Linked DNA regions of Homo sapiens: region 1 is linked to region 2. The links come from fine-mapping of genetic effects on gene expression. A gene starts in region 2. The other region holds a variant in brackets. All regions are shown on one strand. Distances are from middle to middle.

Region 1 (11,856 bases), 55 kb after region 2:
AAATGGTAGCTATTACAAATATTGTATTAAATGCTCATATTTTATTTGTGCTGAAAAATTGAGCACAGAATGGTTTTTCTTAGTCTTGTTGTTACTGGATAATTTTAACATTATTTTATAGCTAACAAAACAGACATATTGTTTTAAATTATATCCTTATGAACCTGATTTGTTGCACATTCGTTTGGAGATTTCCCTTGCTCTATTTTAGTTGTTTGGAAAATGTTATCATACATGAGAACTAGAGATTTCCAAACTTCTTGTTCAGTAGAGCTGGCTCCAGAAATTGAATTAATATATTTTAATATTATGAAATATCTCAGGCATATTTAAAAAATCACAAATAATATTTAACATCATGTACTGACAACCCAGCTTAAGAAATAAAACATTATAGGTACATTTGAAATCCTCTGTCTACTCCTTTCCAGAAGTAACAAAGTTCTGAATATGGTTATTATTTCCCTGCACCTCTATTCTTTTATTATATATGTAAACATCCATAAGCAATATATAGTATTTTCCTTGATTTTAAGACTTATACAAAATGTATCATAGTGTACATATTTGGCCACTTTCTTTCTTCCTTCATGTTTATGTTTTTGTTTGTTTGTTTTGGTTTTTTTTTGAGATGAATTTTCGCTCTTGTTGCCCAGGCTGGAGTGCAGTGGCGCAATCTCGGCTCACTGCATCCTCCGCCTCCTGGGTTGAAGCGATTCTCCTGCCTCAGCCTCCCGAGTAGCTGGGAGTACAGGCATTCACCACCTGCCCGGCTAATTTTGTATTTTTAGTAGAGATGGGGTTTCTCCATGTTGGTCAGGCTGGTCTCGAACTCCCGACCTCAGGTGATCCGCCTGCCTTGGCCTCTGAAAGTGCTCGGATTACAGGTGTGAGCCACAGCGCCTGGCCTATGTTTTCGAGAATTATGCACACTGATAGATGTAGTTCTACTTTGTTCATTTTTACTGATATATGTACCATCCTGCTTTATGGACATACCACAAATTTATTATTTATTCCTTCTCTTTTTGGGGTGCATTTAGGTGATTTCCAGTGTTATGCTATTGCAAACAATGCTGAGCATAACATTCCTGCACACATCTTGAACACATGGGGACTATGCTCAGAAGCAGAACTGTGGGTCAGAGTATGTCCATCCTTCATTAAGTTCAGTAGATATTGTCAAATTACTTTTCATAGTGAGTTTATCAGCTTCTACTCCCACCAGCAATGTGGGGGCTACCATTCTTGCCACATCCTTGCCAACGCTGTAGTGTTGTCCAACTTTTTTTTAAAGCTTATATTTTGAAATAACTCCAAACTTGCAGGAAAGTTGCAAGAGGAATACAAATAACTCACATTTGCCTTTCACCGAGAGTCACCAATTACTATTTTAACACATTTGCTTTATCTCCTCATATGTAATTTCTACATGATTTTATATACTTTTTAATTATTATTATACTTTAAGTTCTAGGGTACATGCAGATTTGTTACATAGGTATACATGTTTCACGTTGGTTTGCTGCACCCATTAACTCGTCATTTACATTAGGTATATCTCCTAATGCTATCCCTCCCCCCTCCCCCCACCCCACGACAGGCCCCGGTGTGTGATGTTCCCTGCCCTGTGTCCAAGTGTTCTCATTATTCAGTTCCTACCTATGAGTGAGAACATGCGGTGTTTGGTTTTCTGTCCTTGTGATAGTTTGCAAAGAATGATGGTTTCCAGCTGCATCCATGTCCCTGCAAAGGACATGAACTCATCCTTTTTTATGGCTGCATAGTATTCCATGGTTTATATGTGCTGCATTTTCTTAATCCAGTCTATCGTTGATGGACATTTGGGTTGGTTCCAAGTTTTTGCTATTATGAATAGTGCCGCAATAAACACATGTGTGCATGTGTCTTTATAGTAGCATGATTTATAATCCTTTGGGTATATACCCAGTAATGGGATCGCTGGGTCAAATGGTATTTCTAGTTCTAGATCCTTGAGGAATCGCCACATTGTCTTCCACAAAGGTTGAACTAGTTTACACTCCCACCAACAGTGTAAAAGCATTCCTGTTTCTCCACATCCTCTCCAGCATCTGTTGTTTCCTGACTTTTTAATGATCACCATTCTAACTGGTGTGAAATGGTATCTCATTGTGGTTTTGATTTGCATTTCTCTGATGGCCAGTGATGATGAGCATTTTTTCATGTGTCTGTTGGCTGCATAAATGTCTTCTTTTGAGAAATGTCTATTCGTATCCTTTGCCCCCTTTTTGATGGGGTTGTTTTTTTCTTGTAAATTTGTTTAAGTTCTTTGTAGATTCTGGATATTAGCCCTTTGTCAGATGAGCAGATTGCAAAAATTTTCTCCCATTCTGTAGGTTGCCTGTTCACTCTGATGGTAGTTTCTTTTGCTGTGCAGAAGCTCTTTGGTTTAATTAGATCCCATTTGTCTATTTTGGCTTTTGTTGCCATTGCTTTTGGTGTTTTAGTCATGAAGTCCTTGCCCATGCCTATGTCCTGAATAGTATTGCCTAGGTTTTCTTCTAGGATTTTTATGGTTTTAGGTCTAACATGTAAGTCTTTAATCTATCTTGAATTAATTTTTGTATAAGGTGTAAGGAAGAGATCCAGTTTCAGCTTTCTACATATGGCTAGCCAGTTTTCCCAGCACCATTTATTAGTGATCCTTTCCCCATTTCTTGTTTTTGTCAGGTTTGTCAAAGATCAGATGGTTGTAGATGTGTGGTGTTATTTATTTCTGCAGTCTCTGTTCTGTTCCATTGGTCTATATATCTGTTTTGGTACCAGTACCATGTTGTTTTGTTTACTGTAGCCTTGTAGTATAGTTTAAAGTCAGGTAGCGTGATGCCTCCAGCTTTGTTCTTTTTGCTTAGGATTGTCTTGGCAATGCAGGCTCTTTTTTGGTTCCATATGAACTTTAAAGTAGTTTTTTCGAACTCTGTGAAGAAAGTCATTGGTAGCTTGATGGGAATGGCATTGAATCTATAAATTACCTTGGGCAGTATGGCCATTTTCACGGTATTGATTCTTCCTACCCATGAGCATGGAATGTTCTTCCATTTGTTTGTGTCCTCTTTTATTTTGTTGAGCTGTGGTTTGTAGTTCTTGAAGACGTCCTTCACATCCCTTGTAAGTTGGATTCCTAGGTATTTTACTCTCTTTGTAGCAATTGTGAATGGGAGTTCACTCACGATTTGGCTCTCTGTCTATTATTGGTGTATAGGAATGCATGTGATTTTTGCACATTGATTTTTGTATCCTGAGACTTTGCTGAAGTTGCATATCAGCTTAAGGAGATTTTGGCTGAGACGATGGGGTTTTCTAAATATACAATCATGTCATCTGCAAACTGAGACAATTTGACTTCCTCTTTTCCTAATTGAATACCCTTTATTTCTTTCTCTTTTCTGATTGCCCTGGCCGGAACTTCCAACACTATGTTGAATAGGAGTGGTGAGAGAGGGCATCCCTGTCTTGTGCCAGTTTTCAAAGGGAATGCTTCCAGTTTTTGCCCATTCAGTATGATATTGGCTGTGGGTTTGTCATAAATAGCTCTTATTATTTTGAGATACGTGCCATCAATACCTAGTTTATTGACAGTTTTTAGCATGAAGGGCAATTGAAGTTTGTTGAAGGCCTTTTCTGCATCTATTGAGATATCATGTGGTTTTTGTCATTAGTTCTGTTTATGTGATGGATTATGTTTATTGATTTGTGTATGTTGAACCAGCCTTGCATCCCAGGGATGAAGCCGACTTGATCGTGGTGGATAAGCTTTTTGATGTGCTGCTGGATTCGGTTTGCCAGTATTTTATTGAGGATTTTCACATCGATATTCATCAGGGATATTGGTCTAAAATTCTCTTTTTTTGTTGTGTCTCTGCCAGGCTTTGGTATCAGGATGATGCTGGCCTCATAAAATGAGTTAGGATTCCCTCTTTTTCTATTCATTGGAAGAGTTTCAGAAGGAATGGTACCAGCTCCTCTTTGTACCTCTGGTAGAATTCAGCTGTGAATCCATCTGGTCCTGGAGTTTTTTTGGTTGGTAGGCTATTAATTATTGCCTCAATTTCAGATCCTGTTATTGGTCTATTCAGAGATTCAACTTCTTCCTGGTTTAGTCTTGGGAGGGTGTATGTGTCCAGGAATTTATCCATTTCTTCTAGATTTTCTAGTTTATTTGCATAAAGGTGTTTATAGTATTCTCTGATGGTAGTTTGTATCTCTGTGGGATTGGTGGTGATACCCTCTTTATCATTTTTTATTGCATCTATTTGATTCTACCCTCTTTTCTTCTTTGTTAGTCTTGCTAGCGGTCTATCTATTTTGTTGATCTTTTCAAAAAACCAGCTCCTGGATTCACTGATTCTTTTGAAGGGTTTTTTGTGTCTCTATCCCCTTTAGTTTGGCTCTGATCTTAGTTGTTTCTTGCCTTCTGCTAGCTTTTGAATGTGTTTGCTCTTGCTTCTCTAGTTCTTTTAGTTGTGTTGTTAGGGTATTGATTTTAGATCTTTCCTGCTTTCTCTTGTGGGCATTTAGTGCTATACATTTCCCTTTACACACTGCTTTAAATGTGTCCTAGAGATTCTGGTATGTTGTGTCTTTGTTCTCATTGGTTTCAAAGAACATCTTTATTTCTGCCTTCATTTCATTGTGTATCCAGTAGTCATTAGGAGCAGGTCGTTTAGTTTCCATGTGGTTGAGTGGTTTTGAGTGAGTTTCTTAATCCTGAGTTCTAATTTGATTGCACTGTGGTCTGAGAGACAGTTTGTTGTGATTTCTGTTCTTTTACATTTTTTGAGGAGTGCTTTACTTCCAACTATGTGGTCAATTTTGGAATAAGTGAGATGTGGTGCTGAGAAGAATGTATATTCTGTTGATTTGGGGTGGAGAATTCTGTAGATATCTATTAGGTCTGCTTGGTGCAGAGCTGAGTTCAATTCCTGGATATCCTTGTTAACCTTCTGTCTTGTTGATCTGTCTAATATTGACAGTGGGGTGTTAAAGTCTCCCATTATTATTGTGTAGGAGTCTAAGTCTCTTTGTAGGTCTCTAAGGACTTGCTTTATGAATCTGGGTTCTCCTGTATTGGGTGCATATATGTTTAGGATAGTCAGCCCTTCTTGTTGAATTGATCCCTTCACCATTATGTAATACCCTTCTTTGTCGCTTTTGATCTTTGTTGGTTTAAAGTCTGTTTTATCAGAGACTAGGATTGCAGGCCCTGCTTTTTTTTGCTTTCCATTTGCTTGGTAGATCTTCCTCCATTCCTTTATTTTGAACCTATGTGTGTCTCTGCACATGAGATGGGTCTCCTGAATATAGCACACTGATGGGTCTTGACTCTTTATCCAATTTGCCAGTCTGTGTCTTTTAATTGGGGGCATTTAGCCCATTTACATTTAAGGTTAATATTGTTATGTGTGGATTTGATCCTGTTGTTATGATGCTAGCTGGTTATTTTGTCCGTTAGTTGATGCAGTTTCTTCCTGGCATTGATGGTCTTTACAATTTGGCATGTTTTTGCAGTGGCTGGTACGGGTTGTTCCTTTCCATGTTTAGTGCTTCCTTCAGGAGCTCTTGTAAGGCAGGCCTGGTGGTGACAAAATCTCTCAGCATTTGCTTGTCTGTAAAGGATTTTATTTCTCCTTCACTCATGAAGCTTAGTTTGGTTGAATATGAGATTCTGGGTTGAAAATTATTTTCTTTTAAGAATGTTGAATATTGGCCTCTACTCTCTTCTGGCTTGTAGAGTTTCTGAGAGATCTGCTGTTAGTCTGATGGGCTTCCCTTTGTGGGTAACCCAGCCTTTCTCTCTGGCTGCCCTTACATTTTTTCCTTCATGTCAACCTTAGGGAATCTGACAATTATGTGTCTTGGAGTTGCTCTTCTCGAGGAGTATCTTTGTGGTGTTCTCTGTATTTCCTGAATTTGAATGTTGGCCTGCCTTGCTAGGTTAGGGAAGTTCTCCTGGATAATATCCTGAAGAGTGTTTTCCAACTTAGTTCCATTCTCCCTGTCACTTTTCAGGTACACCATTCAAACGTAGATTTGGTCTTTTCACATAGTCCCATATTTCTTGGAGGCTTTGTTCATTTCTTTTTACTCTTTTTTCTCTAAACTTCTCTTCTTGCTTTATTTCGTTAATTTGATCTTCAGTCACTGATACCCTTTCTTCCACTTGATCAAATTGGCTACTGAAGCTTGTGCATGTGTTACGTAGTTCTCATGCCATGGTTTTCAGCTCCATCAGGTCATTTAAGGTCTTCTCTACACTCTTTATTCTAATTAGCCATTCGTCTAATCTTTTTTCAAGGTTTTTAGCTTCCTTTCAATGGGTTCAAACATCGTCCTTTAGCTTGAAGAAGTTTGTTATTACTGACCTTCTGAAGCCTACTTCTGTCAGCTCATCAGAGTCATTCTCCATCCAGCTTTGTTCTGTTGCTGGTGAGAAGCTGCCATCCTTTGGAGGAGAAGAGGCGCTCGGTTTTTAGAATTTTCAGCTTTTCTGCTGTGGTTTCTCCCCATCTTTGTGGTTTTATCTACCTTTGGCCTTTGGTCTTTGGTCTACCTCCAGATGGGGTTTTGGTGTGGATGTCCTTTTTGTTGATGTTAAGGCTATTCCTTTCTGTTTGTTAGTTTTCCTTCTAACAGTCAGGTCCCTCAGCTGCTGGTCTGTTGGAGTTTGCTAGAGGTCCACTCCAGACCCTGTTTGCCTCGGTATCACAAGTAGAGGCTGCAGAACAGCAAATATTGCTGCCTAATCCTTCCTCTGGAAGCTTCTTCCCAGAGGGGCACCCGCCTGTATGATGTGTCAGTTGGCCCCTACTGGGAGGTGTCTCCCAGTTAGGCTACACGGGGGTCAGGGACCCACTTGAGGAGGCAGTCTGTCCGTTCTCTGAGCTCAAACACTGTGCTGGGAGAACCACTGCTCTCTTCAGAGCTGTCCTACAGGGACGTTTGAGTCTGCAGAAGTTTCTGCTGCCTTTTGTTCAGCTATGCCCTGCTCCTAAAGGTGGAGTCTAC[A/C]TGTAGAGGCAGAGGTCTTGCTGAGCTGCGGTGGGCTCCGCCCAGTTCGAGCTTCCTGGCTGCTGTGTTTACCTACTCAAGCCTCAGCAATGGTGAACGCCCCTCCCCCTGCCAGGCTGCTGCCTCCAAGGTCTATCTCAGACTGCTACACTAGCAGTGAGCAAGGCTCTGTGAGCATGGGACCTGCTGAGCCAGGTGTGGGATATGATCTCCTGGTGTGCTGTTTGCTAAGACCATTGGAAAAGCACAGTATTTGGGTGAGAGTGTCCTGTTTTTCCAGGTACTGTCTTCTGTGAATGTACGGCTTCCCTTGGCTAGGAAAGGGAAATCCCCCGACGCCTTGCATTTCCTGGGTGAGGCGATGCCCTGCCCTGCTTCGGGTCGCCCTCCATGGGCTGCACCCACTGTCCAATCAGTGCCAATGAGATAAACCAGGTACCTCAGTTGGAAATGCAGAAATCACCCGTCGTCTGCGTCGATCACGCTGGGAGCTGCAGACCAAGCTGTTCCTATTTGGCCATCTCGGAACGGGATTCAATTTTATATATATTTTTATACAGATTTTTTTTCCTGAACCATTTGGAAATCAGTTGTAGACATCATGCTCCTTTGCTTCTAAATATTTCAGTATGTATTTCCTATGAACAAGGACATTTTCTAACATAAACACAGAATAATTATCAAATTTAGGAAATTCAGTATTTTATCAGACTTCATGTTTGCCAGTCTGCTGAGCTTTAAAGGACTTCTTTCCATCTTTCTATTGTGAAGATGTTTACAGTTACAAGAAAGTTGAACAAATAGTTTGGTGAACATCTGTGAACCTCTTGGATTCAATAAATATTTTGATTTATTTATTTTCTCTTTCTCATAGACACATACTTTTTTCCTTTGCTCATTAGAAAGTTGTAGATATCATAACATCATCCCTTCAACACACATTTTTTTAAGAGCATTTTCCTGCATCACTACGATATCATTATTACACCTAAGAAAAATGACGGTAATTCCCTAATGTCCTCTAATATCATTATTATTTTTTTTTTTTTTTGAGATGGAGTCTTGCTCTGTCACCAGGCTGGGAATGCAGTGGCATGATCTTCGCTCACTGCAACCTCCGCCTCCCAGGTTCAAGTGATTCCGCTGCCTCAGCCTCCTAAGTAGCTGGGACTACAGGCGTGTGCCACCACGCCTGGCTAATTTTTTTGTGTGTGTGTTTTGGTAGAGATAGGTTTCACCATGTTGGCCAGGATGGTCTCAATCTCCTGACTTCGTGATCCACCCGCCTTGGCCTCCCAAAGTGCTGGGATTACAGGCATGAGCCACTGTACCCGGCCCTAAGGTCCTCTAATATCTGAACCATATTCAGATTTTCTTGATTGTCCCAAGAATGTGTGTGTGTGTGCACATGCGTGTGTGAAATCCAGGCTGGTATTCTGTAGATTGAACCACGTTCTGGGTTTGACTGATTGTTTCCTCATGGTGTGTTTAACTTGTATCTCTATGTTCTATGTAAAATAGTATCTTAAGTTAACTGCATTTTCCCCTGGTTACTGGAGAGGCTGATCACCTTTCATTTGCTGTTCAAGTTTCCTCTTGAGTGAATTCCCTATTCTATTTTTTGTTGAACTGTCTCTGCCTTTTCTTAAAGATTTGTAGGAATTCTTTACATATTCTGGATAATAATCTTTGGTTGGTTATATGTAGTATCTATATTTTAAACAAGCAGCCCAAATGATTGAATTGCCAAGTGGTTTTTGGACAATTCTTTTGTAGAAGTTCTCATCGTAGAATCCTCCTCTTTAATCTGTAATAGTTTGATCCCAAGTAAATAGATGAAAGAGATAAGGTTTAATCACAAAACACAAATGGACTAAAATGAATCAGAACCATGGTATGCTAATAAATATGTACTTATATTCTTGTTAGCACTCATTTAAGGTACTCTTATCATCCTTAATATTAGAGAGTGCCGGTCCCATTTTGTTCTTCTGATAAATGAACATGCTATGGTTTAATAGAGAGAGTATGGGCTTTGGAGTCGGAGATCTACATTTGTATGCTGACTATCCTTTTTCTAGCTACATAGCCCTGTGCAATTTACTTAGATATTCATTCTACAATTCCTCATCTGTAAAACCGCAAGTTGCCTTATACAGTTATTGTGAAGATACAATGAAATAATGAATATGAAAACATTTTGTCCAACATCAGATGAAAAATAAGCATTAAATCTTATCCTACTCTTTTTTTCCTTCCTTTCTTCCTCCTTATGTTTTTAGACTCATAAGTATCACAGAACTGGTCCCTTTGAAAAACAATATGTTGGGAGCTTACTGACTTTCTTGATTACATTTAGCCAGGGTTTTGTTTTCCAACCAGGATATGCACAACCTGAGGCTTCGTCATATTGCTACTGAAAACTTTGTGGCAGGCATCAGTAGCTGGCCAGCATTTGGTTTACAGTGCTCAAGTTACTTATAATGCCTTGCAAATGCTTAAGCAGCACAGTGAGGGTTCCATAGTTAAACCCACTGAATCTTTCTAGGAGCTTGCAGAGCTAGAAAGTGCCCTCCAAGAGCAGCATGAGGTGAATGCATCTTTGCAGCAGACCCAGGGAGATCTCAGTGCCTATGAAGCTGAGCTAGAGGCTCGGCTAAACCTAAGGGATGCTGAAGCCAACCAGCTCAAGGAAGAGTTGGAAAAAGTAACAAGACTTACCCAGGTAAGTAGGAGCATGAAGCCAACTGCAAACTAAGGACCCTGTGCCTTAAGATATCATCCTTCTTTTATTTATGTCTTAATTTAAAATTAAGCGTTTTTTCATACAATATATATGGAGTGATGGGAAAGGCAGAATTTTGGAGTCAGACATTGTGAGTGCTAATAACTACCCCTGTGTGAACACGGGCAAATCAGTTCATAGCTCTGAGCCTCCCAGCCTTTTCCTCCTGTGTAAAATGGCTTATGGGGAAGATAAATGAGATAATGGACATGAAAGCACCTGACAGTTGATACTCAATAAATGCTAGTTTTTCCTTCTTAGAACAGGTTTAAGGACTTTTTTTTTTGAGACAGAGTCTTGCTCTGTTGCTAGGCTGGAGTACAGTGGCATGATGACGGCTCACTGCAACCTCCGCCTCCTGGGTTCAAGTGATTTTCCTGCCTCAGCCTCCTGAGTAGCTGGGACTACAGGTGCGCGCCACCATGCCTGGCCAATTTTTTGTATGTTAGTAGAGATGGGGTTTCACCATGTTGGTCAGGCTGGTCTACAAACTCCCGACCTCAGGCGATCCACCCACCTCAGCCTCCCAAAGTGCTGGGATTACAGGCATGGGCCACCGTGCCTGGCCGAGACCTCTTTTAGGTTGATGATAAGTTGTAGTTTGCTGTCTCCTTTTAGGGTTGGTTGAAAGATCCACTAGTTTAAATTATACTTGCAAGTTACAGAAAACATATCCAATAAATATTTATTGATTGGCCATTGAGGGCCAGGTACTGTGGATTCTCTAGGGAAAGCACAGACATGGTCACCATCCTGTGGAGCTGACAGATCTCTGATTGGTAAACTTTAGTCCAGCAAGTGAAACAGGTATGGAAGAAAGAAAGGGACAGGATTCTTTGGCCAAGGAGGAAGTAGTCAGGGAAGACCACCCTACAGAAATGATGTTTCAGCTGATGGCTGATGGATGAGTAGGATTTGGCCACGCAGAGGGGACAGGGTGAAAGGAGTAAAGGTAAGGTATTTGTATTCTAGGCAGAGAGGTGAGGAGAGAGAGCATATAGTACATTTGAAGTGCTGAACGTATGCCTCCAGGATGCCAGGAGCAGGGAGAGGAGTGAGGAAAGAGAATGAGAGGTAAAGGCAGAGAGGCAGGCAGAGGCCAGTTGTAATATATTCTTTATCAGATTAAAAATACAATTTATTAGCCAGATGAGCTGCATCTTCTTTCAGGAAGCCCACCTCAACCTTTCCTTTCTGCCTGCTGAAAATCTGGGTTCAGGACTCTACTTTGGTTTTCCTATAACCTGTGCACAGTAAAGGTATTTATCATGCATATGATGATCATCTGTTTAGATGCTCCTAGATGATCTGTTTGTTTTACCCCAGCTAGACTCAGAGCTCAGTGAATGCCCAAATTGTATCTGTTTGTTTCTGCTTTTTCTGTGCCTGGCATATGAGAAGCGTCAATATGTGCCTATTTGATGAAAATGAAATAAATAAGATATTTTGAATCTCAGGAATGCATGTAAAAATAATTCATATGGTTAGAAAAGGAACTAGAAATATATCTGGTTTATTATAGTAATTATGTATATTTCTTTACTTATGAGATATCAGATCATCACTTGACAGTTGTCAGGATTGTATTTCTCGAGTACCGAGTTTTGTAGAAGTATAGTTGACAAGATCAGAGTCTCAGAAATCAGGAGGTTTTAGGAAAACAATTAAAATAACAGTAAATATTTTAAAATAATAATAAATAAAATTTCTAGATGGCATTTTCCTTAATAAATTCTCCTCTTTTCAAGCCAGACTGTACTAGCTTGAAATACACTGTCCTTTGTACTTTGATTGGCTTTTATTTTCTTCTCATAAGTCTTGACAAAATTATTTTAAGAGCCTGGCCTTTTCACCAATTCACTTGGTATTGAAAGGGACATTCCCCCTCCCTCAGCACCAAGACTGCCAGGATTGGTCTTCAAACCACACATTGAGAATATGAAGCATAACAGATCTCCTGTCTCTGATCTGAAGATCTACAGATCTCTGATTGGTAAACTTTAGTTGCATGAACTCACTTGTGA
Region 2 (11,709 bases):
CTACATGTCATTTAAAAATAAAAATTAAGGTTGGGTATGGTGACTCACACCTACAAACCTAGCACTTTGGGGGACCAAGGCAAGCGGATACTTGAGGCCAGGAGTTGAAGACCAGCCTGATCAACATGGTGAAGCACTGTCTGTACTAAAAATACACACACATACACAAAAATAGCTGGGCGTGGAGTCACACACCTGTAATCACAGCTACTGGGGAGGCTAAGGCACAAAAATTGTTTGAACCCTGGAGGTGGAGGTTGCAGTGAGCCATGATCGTGCTACTGCACTCCAGCCTGGGCAACAGAGTGAGACTCTGTCTCAAAAAAACAAAAACAAGAACAAAAAACAAAACACACCAACAAAAACAAAAAAAAATAAATGAATAAAAATTAAAAAAAAATCAGGCTGGGCATGCTGGCTCATGCGTGTAATCCCAGCACTTTGGGAGGTTGAGGTGGGAGGATCGCTTGAGCCCAGGAGTTTAAGACCAGCCTGGGCAACACAGCAAGACCCCATCTTTACAAAAAGTTTAAAAATTAGCTAGGTGTGGTGGTGCACACCTATAGACTGAGCTATTTGGGAGGCTGAGGGAGGAGGATCACTTGAGTCTGAGAAGTCAAGGCTGCAGTGAGTTATGATTGTGTCACTGCACTGAAACCTGGGTGACAGAGTGAGACCTTGTCTTAAAAAACAAAACAACAAAATCACACTGGCCAGTCACAGAAAGAAATGGCAATAATGAAAGTTGCCATCCCTGTCTGACAAACTAGTCTGTTTCTTCTCTAAAACAAATTCGCAAAATGATTAAACTGGGTTGCAAAAAGCTGAGGGAAGTTTAAACAGAATAGCTTTGCTATCATTTGGAAAAAAGACTGAGTAAAAGCTTGGTCACCCTGACGTGGCTAATATTTGTATTGTAAATGCAACTCAGAGTACATTCTTCATAATATCAGATAAAGAAAAATAGTGTGGAACGCGAGTTGTCTGCGTTACTTTCGTATTCTCACTTCTGCTTTGGAGAAGGAAGTTCTTTTAGCATGCTAAGAGAGACAGTTAATATTCAAATTAACTGGAGAAAGGTCTCTCCTTTGAAGTCTCTAGCTTCGTTAGAGATGATGCTAGACACCAGCAGAGGTCTGTATGAGGAGGAAAAGGGGGCAACATGGGACCGGTGAGTGCCCATCCGCGGCTAACTGGATACGGACTGAGAGATCACCCAAGAGAAAAGTGTTTTGCGCCACCCTCTGGACTTTTTATGTATATTTGATGGCTATTAATTGATACTAATATGATTGATAATGAACTACATCAGCACACCACGGCTTGATAATGGATCCCACGTGAATACCATTACAGACTTTGAGGGACACAGCAATGAGGTTACGCAATAAATCTAAGTTTCTGGGTACAAGAAACCGAAACGATGGGTGTCAAAACATATGCAAATAGAACTGAAACTCAGCAACGTACACATTCCAATCTAATAAATATCACCTGAACTTCGATTAAAAATGAATGTAATCTCGGCAGGGCGCGGTGGCTCACGCCTGTAATCCCAGCACTTTGGGAGGCCGAGGCGGGCGGATCACGTGAGGTCAGGAGATTGAGACCAGCCTGACCAACATGGTGAAACTCTGTTTCTACTAAAATACAAAAATTAGCTGGCCTTGGTGGTGCGTGCCTGTAATCCCAACTCCTCGGGAGGCTGAGGCAGGAGAATCGCTTGAACCCGGGAGGCGGAGGTTGCACTGAGCCGAGATCCTGCCACTGCACTCCAGCCTGGGTGACAGAGCCAGACTCTGTTCAAAAAATTAAAAAAAAAAAAAAAAAAAAGAAAAGAAAAAAAATGAATGTAATCTCCTCTTAAGTGGAGCTTTTCAAAAATTCTGCGTTTAAACTCCAAGGGCTTCGTTCTGTGTCGTGTAAATAGTTGGGGAGAGGACAGCACCATTCACTTAAATGTCAATGGGAATCACATTTAAGTAAAAGGAAAAGGAAATCAGTAAATCAAAGTAAATCAAAGACACATCTGCATCCCCATGTTTATTGCAGCTTATTCCCTGTTGGACGTCCCCTGAATTTCCTATAGAGGTGAAGCCATCTCTGCCTTAAGGAAAAATGAAGTGCCTAATACTGCTTATAATATGGTCCCTTTTCCAGATTTAGCTTCTCCACCCCAGATTTTTGCACAAGCCATACTGAACTACTTCATGTTTCCATACTCATGTTTTGTTCCAGCCACACTGAATTACTTAACATTCAGCACATTGCCAAGCTCTTTTCCCCCGCTTCCGGGGTTTGCACAAGTTGTTCCCTTTGCCAAGCAAATTCTTCCCCACCTCCCTACTCCTTGCCTAAACTCTTCTTTTGGGCGTAGAAAGAAGTATTGCTTCTGGGTAACCTTTGTCTAATAATGAAATATCTAAGACATATTGAGAACTTACTATGGGTCCCTCACTGTTCTAAGTTCTTTCACAGAGATTCACTTTTATAATTATCAGGAAAACTGGACTTTTTTTTTTTTTTTTTTTTTTTGAGATGGAGTCTCGCTCTGTCGTCCAGGCTGGAGTGCAGTGGCGCGATCTCGGCTCACTGCAACCTCCGCCTCCCGGGTTCAAGCGATCCTCCTGCAGCCTCTCAAGCAGCTGGGATGACAAGCGTGCGCCACCACGCCCGGGTAATTTTTGTATTTTTAGTAGAGACGGCGTTTCACCTTGTTGGCCAGGCTGATCTTGAATTCCTGACCTCAAGTGATCCTCCCACCTTGGTCTCCCAAAGTGCTGGGATTACAGGCATGAGCCACAGCGCCCGGCCAGGATTCACTTTTATAATTATCAGGAAAACTGTAGGAAGTGTTAATAGGTAAAAGGACCTCATTTCATAGATAAGGAAACTGAGACACAGAGAGAGAGGGAGTTTCTAAAAGTGTTATACAGGTGGCCTATAAACTCTGTAGTGAAGAAAGGAAATGAAGACAGGATAGAATGATCGCGAGAAAATGGTAAGAACAAGGGACTGGAAGACGCAAGGAAGTTTAGAAATACGCTGGCATAGGGGTCTTTTGAGCAGGCACGCTGCTAAGATGATAGGATTATAGTCAAGGATGGGGAGCGATTGCACTGGGGATTTCTGGAGCGGGTGCAGCCTCTGATGGTAACATGGTCCAGGGTATACCTTCAAAACGGGAGGCTACTGGAGTGAAAGGCGTCAATGGTGATAACACTTTAAAAAAAACTTCAGTGTTTCCCTAGCATCCAGCCCAGTATCTGCTAAATTCTTTAAAATATCTGTTGAATGCATGTCGTGAACGCCGTGCTCATGGGCAAGCCCCAGATGAAGCCTGTGCAAGTGCTTCTTGCTTTAACTCCCTTGTAGCAATCAGAGGAACATCCTCTGCCTAGGATTCCCAAGCTCCCTGAACCTCACGCGACAGCTGGAGCCCAGGCTGCGTCCGCTTTGAGGTTCATCCGAGCCTGGGCAGTTCGGTCCCTGGAGGGAATTCGCTTTAGATACGACTGTCAGAGAGAAGTGTGCTGATAAGAACACTCGCTCATAGCGCGCAAGCATCAGAAGTGGGGGAGGCCGGGGAGGCGCTGCGCCGGTGCCTCAGGCCGTCCTCGGACACAGGCCCTGAGAAGCGTGTCCGTGTTTCAGAGGGTGGCGGCGGCAGCTTTGTCTCAGCGAAGGCCACAGCACTGCGGGCAGCTGCCGCATGAAACCTCGGCTCCCCCTGACTCTGCACCCGACACTTCACCTGCAACGCAATCCGAAGGCGAAGGCACCGCATCCCGTCGGCCCCGCGCGGCCGGAAGCCTCGCGCCCAAGACTCCCCGGCATCCTAGCGCGCTGGCTGCAAAAGAGGCGGGAAACGCCTCCGCGTCCCTTCCAACAGTACCGGAGAGGGAGAGGGGCGTGGCTGAGACTAGCCCCGACCACGCGCGCGCGGCCCCTCGGCAACCGGCACAACACAACAAAATGGCTGCCGCGCCGCTGGGCCCCTGAGGAAAGAGCCCGAACTTCTCCCGCTCTACCTCAGCCTGCGGGACTGCTCGGCTCGGCTTCTAGGCGGTGAGCGTCAGACCTGGCCGAGCCCGTTCCCCGGCATCCGGCCCGAGCAGTGGGGGCCGGCGGCAAAGGCGGGAAGGCCCGGACCGGGCGTGGTGTGGGCCGGCTTGGGATGGATTCGGGGCGGGGGCGCGTGTCTGGGAATTGGGATTGGACGGGAAAGAGGGGAGGGCCCGGAACGGGCGTGGGGCGGTGGATGAAGGAGGGAGGTTTGGATGGGAAGAGGTGGGGACGGCGGGGGCGATTGGGGATGAAGAACCAGAGTGTGGGGAGGTGTGGAAGTTAGGGTGCGGCGCCCAGAAGGTTGTGGGTCCTGCCACCTGAGCTGAGGGGAGAGCTGGGATGTGCCAGCTGTCTGTGGGGAGTGAGCGGGAGAAAGGACAGTTTGGGCGTCCTGACGGGTTGTCACGGTATCGGACGGAGTACAGTGCGTGGAGAAAGATGACAGGATATGGGGACGAAATGCTAAAAGAAGGGGAAGAACAAACACTTCCGTTATATTCGTTAAGGGACTAGAGAATTTTGAAGCCAGACAAACTTGGGTTGAAGCCTCAATTCTGCCACCTTGTGTAACTTAACCAGGTCTGTGACCCTGGATATGTGTCTGAGCCTTCCTGATCATGTTTCCTCATTTGTCCAAATAATTGCGAATCATTTTTGGGTGTTCACTATTTGTCAGATCCAGTTTTAAGCACTTTGCACGTATTAACCTCATTTAGAATTTAAAATAACTTGTATGAGGTTATCATCCCCATTTAAAAAGTGATAGCACTGAGGACCAGAGAGGTTAAGTAATTTGCCTAAGATCACACAGTAAGTGGAAAATCAGAATTTGAACTCAGGCTGTTTCGTTCCAGAATCCAAGCTTTTAACTGTTCAGGTACATTGCCATTTGTAAATCAGGTTAATAATTCTGATCCTATACAGCTAAATCTTTGAGGATTTAAATTTGGTATTGTCTAAGTGTTTAGTACAGTCCTTCAGTCAACAAATATTTATTGTTTATAGAACAACAGACAAAACCTCTGCTCTCTTGTAGCTTATAGTCTAGAAGGAGAAACAGGCAACAACCAAGTAGTTTCACAAATAATGGTTATAAAATGCTATGAAGGAGACTGCTTGGTGCAGAGATCATGGGTAATAGGGAGATAAAATCTTCTGCATCTTGAGCTTAGATTCTAGCATGGTTCTTCCTACATAAAAGTTGCTCAATAAAATTGAATAATTAATGGAAAGAGATGGGAAGCTTGAGTTTTAGGGTATCTGAGCAGAAGAAGAGAGATGGGAGAGGGGATTCAGGCTTTTAATAGGATGGAGAAGGATACGGGGGCTAGAGTATTAGGATGGAAAGGCAAATAGGCAGGCAGTTGGGTTGGGATGAAGAGGAATGGATGGAGGTTTGAGTATTTTGTTTAGGGAGGGGAGTAATTGGAGGTCAGAGTATTGGAACGCATTAGGATGTCAGGGTATTTTCTGGGGTGAAGAGAGATGAGCAGCTTGGGAAGTCTGGATGGATAGAGAAATGTTGAGTCTGGGCACAGGAAAGAACCATAGAGAAATGGGGGAGACTATTACTGTGTTAGGGAACTGGGATAGAATTTGTGGGAAAATTGGCAATCAGAATGGGATAAAGAAGAATGGGAGGCAGAGGTGGGTGGGCAGCACAGAATGGGGGAATTGGCTTTGGAAAGAAAAATGGCTGGAGACTTTGCAGAGGAATCGGAATCAGGATATTTGAAAGGAGGAGAAGATTAAGGAGTAAAAGTATTTCAGTAGGTCAGAGGGTATGGGATGAAGTAGACTTGGAAAGTACTGAAATCCAATTAAAGGGCTAAGGAGAGGGATATGGGGGTTAATAAATGGGGATGGGTATTTGCATATTAGGGAGTCTGTAGAGAGACAGAAGGAGGTCTGCGTTATTTGGAGATCAGAGAAGATGGGAAGTTAGGAAGGTTAGGAAAGGCTGGATGGAGGTGGAGTTTGCAGTCTGTACTAAGCTGTGATGGACTGAATTGTTAGATCAGAGCAACTATCTGGGTTTATAGGTGGCAGGATGGGTAGTGTTTTGTTGCCTGGACGTAGGATTCTGATTATCATGTCATTCCAATGGCTTTCTCTTGCTCTGCAGACAGCCTTTAAAATACAACTGCAGCTCTGAACTTTATTTGCTTTTTTTTTCTCTTTATCCTGCTCCTTTACTCGCCCTAGCCTACCTCTCAGTTGTCTTCATTTTTCCATTGCTTGCTTGGTCTTTGTTCATGTGATTGCAAACAACATCCTAGATCAAACTACATCCTCATCTCTCCATTAAAATTATAATTCAGCATTTACCACCTCCAGGCAGTAGCCTAAGAAATAATGCCAGCCATTCTCAAACACTGTAAACCCCTAAGCCCACTTCACTGAGTTAGCTATTCTCTGAGACTGATTACGTCTATCTTGTTTCAGTGTCCAAGCTTTACAGAAGCTGTGGCAACCAAGGGTTTAAGTCTATGAATGAGTAAGCCTGACTTTTACTAATCAGGAGAGGTAATAAAGGACCTCATGATAGTCTGGTGAGACCTAAAGGGTCTTGATCATTAGGATGTAAAAACTACAGGCTGGGCACAGTGGCTCACACCTGTAATCCCAGCACTTTGGGAGGCTGAGGCAGGAGGATCACTTGAGCCCAGGAGTTCAAGACCAACCTGGGAACTATAGTGAGACCCCCCATCTCTACAAAAAATAAAAAATTAGCCAAGCGTGGTTATATGCGCCTGTAGTCCCAGCTACTCAGGAGGCTGAGGTAGGAGGATCACTTGAGCCCAGGAAGGCAAGGTTGCTGTGAGCCATGAGCATGCCACTACACTCCAGCCTGGGTGACAGAGAAAGACCTTGCCTCAGGGGGGAAAAAAACGCCAACTACGTACTATACATACTATAATAAATGTCATCTTTTAATCCATTTAATTAGGAATAAGATTTTACCTAAGCACATGCCTCTTAGCTTTTCTCAAATTTTAGAGTATTATCCTTATTTAGAAGGAGAATGCCAGTGCAGCTTAGCAGCATCAATAGTATTACTGAGGGCTGGGCATGGTGGCTGTAATCCCAGCACTTTGGGAGGCCGAGGTGGGTGGATCACCTGAGGTCAGAAGTTTGAGACCAGCCTGGCCAGCATGGCAAAACCTCATCTCTACTAAAAATAAAAAAAATTAGCCGGGCGTGGTGCTGTGCACCTGTAATCCCAGTTACTCAGTAGGTTGGGGCGGGACAATCACTTGAACCTGGGAGGCGGAGGTTATAGTGAGCCGAGATCACACCACCGCACTCCAGCCTGGGCAACAGAGCAGGACTCTGTCTCAAAAAAAGAAAAAAATAGTATTACTGAGACTACAGATTAAACTCAATTTCTCCCACTATACGCTCACAACATGATTCCGTAGGATTTTCCCCCACACATTAAGCAAGCAGTTAGTTCTGCAGTGGTGGGCACCACAGGACTGTCCTCTAGTTCAGTTCAATTCTGACACTGTCTACCTGGAGACAGCGTCACATCCCTAAGGTTGAAGGCTGGCTTACAAGACTGCCCCCAAGTTCTGATGCCAACTGTAAGCCTCAGTTTTACCTGTGCTTCTGACTGACCAGCTATAAATCAGAGTTCCCACAACTCCCTCCTTGGGTTTGATTAATTTGCTAGAGCAGCTCACAGAATTCAGGGAGCACTTACTTACATTTACTGGTTTATTATAAAAGATATTACAAAGGATATAGGTGAAAAGATGCATAGCGTAAGGCAGGTGGGAAGGGGCGTAGAGCTTCCACACCCTCTCTGGGTGGATTCCCCTCCAGGACCCTCCCTGTGTCCAGCTTTCTGGAGGCTCCCCAAACCCAGTCTTTTAACTTTTTATGGAGGCTTCATTATGTAGGCCTGATTGATTACATCATTGGCCATTGGTGATCAACTCAACCTTTAGCCCCTCTCCCCTCCCTCTTTCTAGTGACCAGCCACGATCCTGAAGCTGCCTAGAGGTGGCTAGCCATCAGTCAACTCATTAGTATACAAAAAGACACTTACGATAGCAAAAGGGACTAAGACTAAGTATGTATTTCATAATATTAAAATTACTAAAAGACTTTTTTCCATGGCAAAATTGTGTTATAAGGCACAAAAATTGTTTACCACGCTTGAAATTTAGACCAAAAAGCCTTGTGGAAATGGCATAAATAGCAGTTATGTAACTTGGGGGAGTTTTTCTGATCCATATGTATAGTTTAATATGAGAAAATGAAGGAAAAAGTACAGATACATTTAAGTTCACAGTTTGAAGTACAGGTTGAAGGCCAGGTGTGGTAGCTCATGCCTGTAATCCTAACACTTTGGGAGGTAGAGGTGGGAGGATTGCTTGAGCTCAGGAGTTCGAGATCAGCCTGGACAACATAGTGAAACGCTGCCTCCAAAAAAATAAAAATAAAGTACAGGTTGATTATCTCTTGTCCAAAATGCTTGCTATCAAAAGTGTCTTGGATTTTGGATTTTTTCGGATTTTGGAATATTTGCTTTATACTTGTTTATATTTTTTACATTTATATTTAAATATTTCAGATTTTCAGATTTGGAGTGCTTAACCTGTAGTGAATGAGGCTATTGGAATGGGGCATTTGGCTATATTGTAATGTATGTGAAATAATAATCAACTTTTTAAAAACAAAAAAAGACGGGGTTTTTATTCCTTTCAAACTACTCACCTTGAGAGACCGGATCATGATATCAGAGATCCTTTCTTTGTATAAAATTTTCTGGGTTTCCTTCAGGATTTTTTTTGTTTTGTTTTTTTGAGATGAAGTCTCACTCTGTTGCCCAGGGTGGAGCGCAGGGGCACGATCTTGGCTCATCGCAACCTCCACCTCCCCAGTTCAAGTGATTTTTGTTCCTCAACCTCCCAAGTAGCTGGGATTACAGGCACCTGCCGCCCATGGCATCATGCTAGGCCATAGAGAACAAAGGAAACATAATCTAGACTCCAGGAAACTCAGATAGCTATATGACATGGTCATTAAAAACATGGGTTTTGAATTAAATCACATTTCAAGTTTTGGCTAAACCAATTAGTTAAGGAATTTTGGACAAATTATTTAAGATCTTCATCTGTAAAATGGGAAATAACACTTATCTCATAGAGTTGTTGTATTCAATTCTTTCAATATGATGATACACATAAAGAGCTTATCACAACATATATTTGTCTGTCTGTTTTTTAGAGACAGGGGCTCCCTGTGTTTCCCAGGCTGCAGTGCAGTGGCCAGTCACAAGGTTGATCATAGCACATTGTAGCCTGGAGCTCCTGGGATCAAGCAATCCTCCTGCCTCATCCTCTGGAGTAACTGGGACTGCAAGTATACATACCGTGCCTGACGAAATATCACAATATTTGGTGCGTGGTAAGCCCTCAGTAAATGTTAGCCACTAGTATGATATTCTTTAGAATTAACTTCAATCATCATCTTTTCATTAAATTTTTGGAAGTAGACAAAATTCATATGGAGTCAAATTTACTGAGTAAGGTTAGTGATCAAACTGGGAAAATAAAAACAAAGTGTACCTGAAGCGATGGACCCGATTTTCTTGTGAGACTTAAGAATTAGTTTGAAAGCAGAATCCAAAGAGGAATTCCAAAAATTGAATATATTAATAGATTATATTAGTGTAATCTCTCCTTTATATACTGTATAAGTTCTGTAGGGGAGGAAAGGGAGTAATTCCTTTCTGGCCCATCATAAAGGTCATGGCCAACACCCCTGTAACAAAGACAGGTTGACTAGAGAAAAGCATAGCAAATTTATTCGATCAAAGCTTTATGTGTCATGGGAGCCTTCAGAATGAAGACCCAAAAAATGCAGAAAAAATTATCCGTTTTTATGCTTAGGATTAGTGAAGTGTGGACAGCTGTATAGAAATAGGATTGGACAAAATGGGTATGATCTAACGCTAATAGACTGAGTGAGGAAACTCAGCAACACCTACCTCTCCAGATTTCTCTTGGCCTCTCTGTGCAGCATTCCTTCCTCCTGGGTATTGGGTAGGACCCCTATGGAATGAGAGTCTTAATTTCTTTATGGCCAGCTGTTAGAAAGCTGGGAGTTTGCAGGAAGTTTCTGTATAATCACAGCTTATATGTACCCATATGCTTGTGAAGTTATATTATCTTTTAATAGAGATATGAAAAACTCAAAATGTTCTTCCTACTGCCGTACCACACAGTACAATACTTGTGACATCAGACATGTAAGGGTTGTTGCCCCATACACCAGATACTTCTTCAGTGGACACCAGCTGCATGTCCTCTTATTCAGTTCAATTCTGACACTGTCTGCCTGAAGATAGCATCAGATCCCACAGGTTAAGGACTCAGTCCCACAAGAGTGCCACCAACTTCAGATGCCCATTACAAGTAGTAGATTGCCACCTATACTTCTGACCACCAAGCTATAAATTGGGACTCCCACTGCCCCCTCCTTGGGTTCAATTAATTTGCTTGAGTGGGTCACAGAACTCAGAGAAATACTACTTACATTTTCCCATTTATTATAAAGGATATTACAAAATAAACAGCCAGAGGAAGAGTTGCATAGGGCAAGGTACGTGGAAAGGGGTATGAAGTTTTCATGCTCTCGCCAGCATGCCATCTTCCAGACACCTCCACATGTTCAGCTAATTGGAAGTTCTCTGGACCCTGTCCTTTTGGGGTTTTATGGAGGCTTACTTATGTAGGCGTGATTGCTCACATCATTGGCTACTGGTTATCAAATCAATTTTAGCTGCTCTCCCCTCCTTAAAGGTTGTGGGGTTGGGCTTAAAGTCCCAACCCTCTAAACATGCCTTAGTCTTTCTGGTGACTGGCCCCCATCCCAAAGCTGTCTGGGTGTCACCAGTCATCTTATTAGTAAACGAAAGACACTCTTATCACTGTGGAGAACCCAAAGGTTTTAAGAGCTATGTGATAGGAAACAGGAGGAACATCAAATATATAGGTTAAAAGAGAAATTATCAACACATTAAATTTAACAGTTTAATTGAACAAAGAATAGTTCACAAATTGGGCAGCCCTCAGAACCAGAAGAGATTCAGAGAGATCCATTCTGCAATGTAGGCAGGCAGCATTTATGGATAGAAAAGGGAAGTGAGGTACAGAAATAGCTTGATTGGTTATAGCTCTGTGTTTACCTTATTTGAACATGGTACGATCACTTGACTGCCTGTGATTGAAGCTCAGCTGCTATGATTGGCTGAGACTCAGCTATTACAAAAACATACTCCTAAGTTAGGCTTTCAGTTAGTTTACCTTCTAAGTTAGGTTGCAGTTCATTATGTAGAGACTTAAAGTACAGAGGCACTTTCAGGCAAAATTTAGTTTAATTTAACATACAGTCATGTGTCCCTTAATGACAGAATTTGCTCTGTAAGATGCGTTGTTAGACAATTTCATCATTGTACAAACATCATAGAATGTACTTACACAAACCTAGATGGTATAGGATAGCCTGTTGCTCCTAGACTACAAACCTGTACAGCATGTTACTGTACTGAATACTTTAGGCAGTTGTAGCACCATGGTAAATATTTGTGCATCTAAACATAGAAAAGGGGCTGGGTGTGGTGGCTCA

The links. PIP is the estimated chance that this variant, and not a neighbour inherited with it, causes the effect.
Region 1: its variant is fine-mapped to the expression of CNTRL in whole blood (TOPMed, PIP above 0.99).

The regions. Positions count from the first base shown.
Region 1 is chr9:121,126,211-121,138,066 of GRCh38, forward strand. CNTRL (centriolin) reads left to right here. Exons shown (of 44, transcript NM_007018.6): 15 at 9,596-9,772. Among named protein-coding and RNA genes, the nearest start is that of CNTRL, 57 kb to the left of the region's middle. The variant A/C (reference allele first, on the strand shown) is at 7,048.
Region 2 is chr9:121,071,000-121,082,708 of GRCh38, forward strand. CNTRL (centriolin) reads left to right here and starts at 3,956. Exons shown (of 44, transcript NM_007018.6): 1 at 3,956-4,068; 2 at 9,307-9,479. It also overlaps a transcript of C5 not described here. RefSeq lists enhancers at 1,128-1,177, 3,531-3,920 and silencers at 3,220-3,416, 4,041-4,100, 4,221-4,360.